2 separate regions of the Homo sapiens genome follow, and region 2 is linked to region 1. Evidence: fine-mapped expression QTL. A gene starts in region 1. The other region holds a variant in brackets. All regions are shown on one strand. Distances are between the middles of the regions. Region 1 holds the start of CEP19 (centrosomal protein 19). Region 2 overlaps PIGX (phosphatidylinositol glycan anchor biosynthesis class X).

The links. PIP is the estimated chance that this variant, and not a neighbour inherited with it, causes the effect. A credible set is the group of variants that fine-mapping cannot tell apart.
Region 2: its variant is the best candidate, but not a certain one, in a credible set for the expression of CEP19 in whole blood (INTERVAL, PIP 0.54).

Annotation. Positions count from the first base shown.
Region 1 is chr3:196,710,376-196,714,769 of GRCh38, reverse strand. It overlaps CEP19 (centrosomal protein 19), which reads left to right and starts at 2,520. Exons shown (of 3, transcript NM_032898.5): 1 at 2,520-2,841. PIGX (phosphatidylinositol glycan anchor biosynthesis class X) reads right to left here and starts at 2,393. Exons shown (of 6, transcript NM_017861.4): 1 at 2,126-2,393. The coding sequence starts at 2,237. RefSeq lists silencers at 1,994-2,623, 2,458-2,770.
Region 2 is chr3:196,730,099-196,734,492 of GRCh38, reverse strand. PIGX (phosphatidylinositol glycan anchor biosynthesis class X) reads right to left here. Exons shown (of 6, transcript NM_017861.4): 5 at 3,401-3,501; 6 at 1-734. The coding sequence ends at 591. Among named protein-coding and RNA genes, the nearest start is that of PAK2, 7.6 kb to the left of the region's middle. The variant C/T (reference allele first, on the strand shown) is at 1,966.

The DNA.
Region 1 (4,394 bases):
AGAACAAATAGCCTGGGTGCAGTGACTCATGCCTGTAATCCCAGCACTTTGGGAGGGGGAGGCAGGCAGATCACAAGGTCAACAGTTTAAGACCAACCTGGCCAACATGGTGAAACCCCGTCTTTACTAAAATACAAAAAATTAGCCGGGCGTCGTGGTGTGCACCTGTAGTTCCCGCTACTTGGGAGGCTGAGGCAGGAGAATCGCTTGAACCTGGGAGGTGAAGGTTGCAATAAGCCGAGATTGCGCCACTGCACTAGCCTGGCAAGAGAGCAAGACTCCGTCTCAAAAAAAAAAAAAAAAAAAGAGACAGGGCCTTACTCTGTCACACAAGCTGGAATGCAGTGGCATGATCACAGCTCACTGCAGCCTTGAACTTCTGAGCTCAAGCAATCCTCCCACATCGGCCTCCCAAGTAGCTAGGATTATAGGCCCACGCCACCACACCTGGCTACTTTTAAATTTTTTTGCAGAGACAGGGTCTTGCTATGTTTTCCAGGCTGGTCTTGAACTCTTGGCCTCAAGCAATCCTTCCACCTCAGCCTCCCAATGTGTTAGAATTTCAGGTGTGAGCCACTGTGCCCAGCACAAATCCAGATCTTTCTTCATCCTGTTTAATTTTAATGGGGGTAGGGTGGGAAGTGAGGACTGCTATCCAACTATAAATTAAATTAGAAGAAAAATTATGAACAGGCTTAAATTCTACTGGTATGTACACCAGACAGCAGTTGATCATTGGGACCGGAGAAAGGCTAATTTACAAATAGTACAGCAAATACTAGAATGTCATGATTTTAAAGGCAAAAGTACCATTTTTAAAACGAATTTGTTGAATGTGAATTTACCTTCAACATTTTTCCTCTTAACTATTACTTTGGTAGTGGTGAACTGGCTCTGGAAATTGACTTCTTTTTCCTTTTTTTTTTTTTTTTTGAGACAGAGTCTCCCTCTGTCACCCAGGCTGGAGTGCAATGGCGCGATCTCGGCTCACTGCAACCTCCGCCTCCCTAGTTCAAGCGATTCTCCTGCCTTAGCCCCCTGAGTAGCTGGGACTACAGGGGCACGCCATCACGCCCCGCTAATTTTGACCCCTTTTCAATTATAAAATGCTAACGTTGGAAGCCTCTACAGATTACCAAATCCAACTGTTTAAAAATTCTTCTGGCCGAGCATGGTAGTTCACACCTGTAATCCTGGCACTTTGGGAGGCTGAGGAGGGTGGACCACCTGAGGTCAGGAGTTCAAGACCAGCTTGACCAATACGGCGAAACCCCGTCTCTACTAAAAATACAAAAAATTAGCTGGGCATGGTGGCGGGCACCTGTAATAATCCCAGCTACTTGGGAGGCTGAAGCAGAAGAATTGCTTGAACTTGGGAAAGGCGGAGGTTGCAGTGAGCCGAGATCGCGCCATTGCACTCCAGCCTGGCAACAGAGTGAGACTCCATCTCAAAAAAAAAATCTTCTTGGCCTCATAATCCTTTGTTTAGATAAACTTGAAAACCCAATATGTAAACACACAAGCAGAACTGCACTGATTGACAGATACTAAACGGATCTAAATGATACCAAGGATGACAGAAACATCCTCATTTTACAGATGGAGAAACTTGTAGGGTTTGTGCTTTCCTCCCATCAAACCTTACCCTTTATTGTAATTATTCCCGCACTTGCCCGTCTCAGTAGTACAAGCAGTTTGCCAACTACTACTTGCACGAACAACTAGCAGTTTGCCACGGAGTCCTACATTCAGTTTGGGGATTCTCAGGCCTCACAGGGCGCTAAGGCCTTGCCTGGCCCCTTGGTGATCAGAAGCTTCGTGCAGCTCAAGAGCATCCCAAGACGCTTGACGGCTGACTTTCCTTCTCAGAACTTTAGTAACAGGGCGGCCAGTCCAGCCTGGGAACCGCAGGGCCCGAGCCCGACTCTCCCGGAGACCCGGGATCCGCCGCAGAGCAAAGCGCACGGGAGGGAAGGAGGGCACACGGCTCTAGTGTCTGACCTCCTCCGGCTCGCCCTACTGATCTAGGTCCCGCGCCGGGTCCCCACATCCCCGCAACCCGCCGAGAGGCCCGGGAGCCGGGACCGCTCCCACGCTCTGGCCCCCCAAGCCCCGCCCCCCTTACCGGCGTCAGAGCGCGCGGCGGTGAAGGCCGCGGCGGGCCCGCGCGTGAGCCCGGTCGCCGCCCCGAGGAGCAGCCAGGCGGCCGCCCGAACCGCCGCCACCCGAGCCGCCAGGACGCCGGAAGCCGGACGCCCGAGAGGGGCGCGCGGGGCCAGGTGCGGACGCAGGAAGGGGCCTGGCCGCCCGCAGCTCCTACCGCGCGCTGCCCCAGATTTATCGGCTGGGACCGAGTGCTGGGTGCGCGCGCCTAGCGCCCGCGGTTCCCAGCTGCCTGCAGCCCCGGCCCCCAAGGGTTCCCGCGCGGCGTGGGGCGGTCGTCCCCGCCCAGCTGTTCCTTGCTCCGCCCACCCGGGGGCGGGCGAGGAGCTGCGCACGCGCGGGGACGCGCGCCCGGCCTGTCGCTGTGGAAACCGCTAGGCCAGCGCTCGCCGGGACCTGGAATCCCTGTACGCCGAGGTGGGAGCCGGTGGACCGGTCCCCCAGCCGGCCCCCACCTCCGCTTCCCGGTGTTTGAGGGTTCGGGCCTCCCGCCGGGGAGTTCACCCCTCGGGCTCGTCAGTAGGGCTGTGGCTGTCGCCTCTTCCTGCAGCGCCAGGCTCCGCCCGGTCTCACAGTCGGCTTAGGGGCTTTGCGTGCACTGCGGTTGGGTGGAAAAACCCACTCCTGGTTGTTTAGACGTTGGCCTGCAGACGATGTCATTTCTGTATTCCTCTAAGGGTAAGAAAGCCAGCCTTGCACTAGTGGAGACGTGAGTAGGGAGAGAATCGTCTACTCTTTGGGGACATTCGTACCCTTAGGTGCTGTGGGGCTTCCTAACAAGATTGTGGGCAGTTACTGATCTCTGGGGAGAGGAGTATTCGTGTCCAGGAAGAATAATTGGATAAACGTGCCGTCCTTCTTCCTAAACAGAGTGGAATCTGTAAGCAGGCCAAGAGAGCATCCAGGCGGCTTGGAGTGGAATAGAGGGCTCTAGAGCGGGTGTCTCAAAGAGGAAACAGAGTGTATGTCAAAACATACTATCCAAAACTGAAAATAGCCGGGCAGGTGGCTCACGCCTATAGCCCCAGCACTTTGGGCGAATCACCTGAGGTCAGGAGTTCGAGACCAGCCTGGCCAAGATGGCGAAACCCCGTCTCTACTGAAAATACAAAGATTAGCTGGGCATGGTGGTAGGCACCTGTAATTCCAGCTACTCGGGAGGCTGAGGCACGAGAATCGCTTGAACCCAGGAGGCGGAGGTTGCAGCGAGGGGAGATCACGCCACTGCACTGCAGCCTAGGCGACAGAGGGAGACTCTGTTTCAAAAGAAAAAAAAAAACTGAAAATGGTAGTATAAGCATGTTTCTTAAGAAATGGAGAGAGAAATTTTGGAAGATATGCCTTTTAAAATTCAGTCTGGCTCCCTATGAAGAGGAGTAGGGCCAAGGACGATAGTTTGTTGTTATAAGCCTCATAGAATTATTTTATATTCCAAATACAAACATTACTTTAGCAAAAATTAAAGTTAAATTTTAAAAAGAGTCTAGTAAAAAAAAAACTACATTATTTGAGTACCAACTGCATACATCTTTGACGAGTACAGCCATTGCTTCAGTGTGTGGAGTTTATATGTGCCCCGTAGGTTGTAGTTTACTAACATCAAATTTTAGTTAGGTGAATTGGGAATAGTATTCGTTAAAAAAAAAAAAAAAGCAAGAAAAGAGAAGGAAAAGAAGGAGAAATGGTGTGAGCTCATTGCATCAGATTAGAGGTAGAGCACAGTAATTTTTTAAAGTAGTTTTTTTTTTTTTTTTTTTTTTTTTTAAGAATAGGCGTATCATGCTTTGGAGAGGCTGTTGTGCAGTGGCACCATCTCAACTCACTGCAGCCCCAAACTCCTGGGTTCAGGCGATTCTCCCACCTTGGCCTTTGGTGTGGCTGGGACTACAGGTGCATGCTGCCATGCCTGGCCAATTTTTAAATTTTTTGTAGAGACATGCATGGTCTCGCTGTGTTGCCCAGGCTGGTCTCAAACTCCTGGCCTCAAGGTATCTCCTCTCCTTGGCCTCCCAAAGTGTTGGGATTACAGGCCTGAGCCACCACACCTGCCTCCATCTTTTTGAGATGGAGTCTTGCTCTTGTCACCCATGCTGGAGTGCAGTGGTACCATCTCAGCTCACTGCAACCTCCGCCTCCCAGGTTCAAGTGATTCTCCTGCCTTGGCCTCTCGAGTAGCTGGGATTACAGGCACCTGCCACTATGTCCAGCTAATTTTTGTATTTTTAGTACAG
Region 2 (4,394 bases), 20 kb before region 1:
CTCCCAGGTTCAAGCGATCCTCCCGCCTCACCCTTCCAATTAGCTGGGACTACAGATGCCCACCACCAGCCCCAGCTAACTTTTGTATTTTTAGTAGAGACAGGGTTTCACCAAGCTGGTCTCAAACTCTTGACCTCTGGTGATCCGCCCACCTCGGCCTCCCAAAGTGCTGGGATTACAGGTGTGAGCCACTGTGCCTGGCCTATTTTATTCTTATTTATAACGGTTTTCTCAATTTGTAGCTTAAATTGAAAGTACTTGCAAAATGAGAATAATTTGTCTCTACTACATAAAGAAATAATTTTTCTACCCCAAATGAAGATAAAGTCACTTCTCACAAAATAAACATTAATTTAGCAGAATTAAGTTTCCCCTTATGGCATCTGATGCTTGAGGATTACCAAGGATCCATGCAATAGAGCACTACATTTTGGAATTAGCTGAGAATGATCCCAAATTTCCTCTAGTAAACATAATTTTGGCCACAAATGAAGACAAAAGATAAAAGTAATTAATTCTAGAAGAACACCTCTCGTCAGAAATTAATAGATCTTATTTAGGTTTCTAGGAAGCATTTAACTACATAAAACTTATAGGGAAAAATGGCCATATTTGAAAACTGCTACAAGGATCAATGTAGAGCACAGGATTGTAATGAGCAGAGTCACAGAACATACTAGAGAGGTATGTACAGTCAGTCCCACTGGAACTTGTAGAATCACATTCTTATATACCTATGGAGAGAGAGAGAGAAGTTAGACATTGAAAATGCATGTCATGGGCCCGGTGTGGTAGCTCATGCCTGTAATCCCAGCACTTCGGGAGGCCAAGGCGGGCAGATCGCTTGAGGTCAGGAGTTCAAAACCAGCCTGGCCAACATCTCTACTAAACCATCTCTACTAAAAATACAAAAATTAGCCAGGTGTGGTGGCAGGTGCCTGTAGTCCCAGCTACTAGGGAGGCTAAGACAGAACAATCACTTGAACCCGGGAGGCGGAGGTTTGCAGTGAGCTGAGATCGTGCCACTGTACTCCAGCCTGGGAGACAGAGGAAGACTCTGTCTCAAATAAATAAATAAATAAATAAAAATAGTAAAATAAAATAAATGTCATAAGGTGAGACCACTATTTCTTTGATTTTTAATTGGATATTTTTATTTCCTTTTTCTTTTAAATATATTTCAGCCAGTGCTACACTACATGTAATATTATTGGTTTGAATGACTTTTGAATCTAACATTTCATTTAATGTTACAGAATCAGACTCAATTCCCACAATAATTTGTTAAATCTCATTAGTTCTGATTTTTCTGCTTTTTACATAAAGTATATTATTTTAAGAAAAGCTATATCCCAGTGTCACCTCTGTAATCAATATAAACATTTACTTCCTCTTACCATGTTTCAAATTAGAATACAGAATTCTCTCTAAATTGAAGACTTAGAGGAAAAACATTAAAACAACAAAAAACTAAATTATTCTTTCATTCCCATTTGCCTTTCTCTCCCCAGATAGCTTTTAAAGCCTTGTTATTCCCATATTGTACAGCTGGATGTGGCCTTTACTATGACTAGCAATGGAAAAGCTCCTACATTCAACTCAGTTTCTATTTTCTATTTGGTTTTGAAGATAAAGTTCAATGAAAAACACTGGGAAAGTTTATACTTTAAAAATAAGTTTTAAAAAACATTAAAATGTACGTAACTTGGGAATACTTTTTCTTTTTGTAAATACCTGAATTATGATTTCACACCCCAAAAAATACAAGTAACCAACCCAATCTGCAACAAAGTGCTATCTGAAAACCGTCATTCAAAAAAATGACATCTTCAACAATCCTTGGGATGGAATACCACCTTAGTAATGGCCACCTATTTTTCTGGTATATATGAAGATGAAATATATATAAAGTTGGCCGGGTGCAGTGGCTCATGCCTGTAATCCCAGCACTTTGGGAGGCTGAGG[C/T]AGGCGGATCATGAGGTCAGGAGTTTGAGACCAGCCTGGCCAACACAGTGAAACCCTGTCTCTACTAAAAATACAAAAATTATCCAGGCATGGTGGCACGTGCCTATAGTCCCAGCTACTCAGGAGGCTGAGGCAGGAGAATGACTTGAACCCGGGAGGCGGAGGTTGTGGTGAGCCGAGATCGTGCCACTGCACTCCAGCCTGGGCAACAGAGCGAGACTCCGTCTCAAAAAAAAAAATAAAATAAAAAAAAAAATAAAATAAAATAAAATATATATATATATATATATATATATATATATATATATATAAATAATATATACATATAGTTAAAAGCTATATTTAAAGTGTTAAATTATTATGACCTCTTATGGCAAGTTACAGAATTTTAAAGGCAACTGAAGTCAGGTGTGGTGGCTCACGCCTGTAATCCCAGCACTTTGGGAGGCTGACGGGGGTGGATCACCTGAAGTCAGGAGTTTGAGACCAGCCTGACCAACAAGGTGAAACCCCGTCTCTACTAAAAATACAAAAATTAGCCGGGCATGGTGGCAGGCGCCTATAGTCCCAGCTACTCGGGAGGCTGAGACAGGAGAACTGATTGAACAGGGAGGCGGAGGTTGCAGTGAGCCAAGATTGCACCACTGCACTCCAGCCTGGGCAACAGAGCGAGACTCTGTCTCAAAATAAATAAATAAATAAATAAGGACAACTGAATTCAAAATGTTTTAAAAGGGTCACTACTTATCTTGTAGCAATACACACTAATTTGCTAAATCAATAAATCATAAACACTAAGCATACTCTTCATTGACATAATCAATCAAATGCAGGTCTCCAGATGTATTTTAGAGTTTGAGAAAAATTTTCAGGTACCATATGGCAATGGCAACCTACTCAAAAACAACTCTACACTGCATAAGATTGCAGAGTCATCCATCTTCCCAACTGTATGTTCAATGAAAGTTCCCCAACAAAAAACAGCAGTGCTTTGTAGTAACCCTTTGCTGTAAGAAAAAACAGCTTTCTATATTAGAAAATGCTAATCCCAGCTGGGCACGGTGGCTCATGCCTGTAATCCCAGCACTCTGGGAGGCCAAGATAGGCGGATCACCTAAAGTCAGGAGTTTGAGACCAGCCTGGCCAACAGGGTGAAACCCTGCCTCTACCAAAACTACAAAAATTAGCTGGGTGTGGTGGCGGGCACCTAGAATCCCAGCTACTTGGGAGGCTGAGGCAGGAGAATCACTTGAACCTGGTAGGCGGAGGCTGCAGTGAGCCGAGATTGTGCCACTGCACTCCAGCCTGGGTGACAGAGCGAGACTCCGCCTAAAAAAAAAAAAAAATGCTAATCTCTTAAATGTGGCAGGAACATTACAGAAAGAGCTTTAAATGAGGCACATGATCTAAAAAACAACATAAAACATTAGCTTACTGATTTATACTTCATCTTGTTCCATTGGCAGATATCCTCATTCTCCAAAGCACAAGGGGCTGCCACTTCTGAGTGAGCCCAGCATTTCAAAATCGGGAACTCTGAGAAAAGTGGTAGAAAATGATGTCAGAAAACCTGTATTTGGACTGAAAGCTAGGCTTGTATTAAACCTCAATAGACAGAAGTTGTCAAACATTTTAATACATTATGTATATGATCTGGACCCATCTATCACATTCTGTTATTTTAGCATCCTTTTTTATGTGAATGCCTAAGAAATTAGAAAATCACAAAAGTATTGCAAAAGTTGAACATGACTTCTTTTTTTTTTTTTTTTTTTTTTTTGAGACAGAGTCTCACTCTGTCACCCAGGCTGGAGTGCTGTGGTGCAATCTCGGCTCACTGCAACCTCCACCTCCTGGGTTCAAGCGATTCTCCTGCCTCAGCCTCCAGAGTAGCTGGGATTACAGGTGCCTGCCATTGCACCCAGCTAATTTTTGTATTTTTAGTAGAGATCGGGTTTCACCATCTTGGCCAGGATGGTCTTGAACTCCTGACCTCGTGATCCACCCACCTCAGTTTCCCAAAGTGTTGGGATTACAGGCGTGAGCCACTACGCCTGGCCAAACATGACTTCTTAATGAATCTCATTGTACTCAAATTTGGGGCTGCTCTTAAAAATTTAATGTAAACTTATTTTTGAAGCATCACTCAGAAAAGTGAACATATCGTAAGTGCAAAACTCGATAAATTTCCATATGAAACACACCCATAAAAGAGCATTCAGATAAAAAGACAGAATATCAGAATCCAGTTCTCTCAGGAGAGGAACTTTTTCAAACTTTATTTATGCTAAGAGGTACCTTTAATAGAAACAGAAAACAAGGTTGGATGAACAAAGGTAATATAATTGAACATTTTTAATTTTCTCGTCATGAAAGGTATGACGGTAACAAATGTAGTATTAAAAACTTCCCATCTGTCGGTTTTTAGT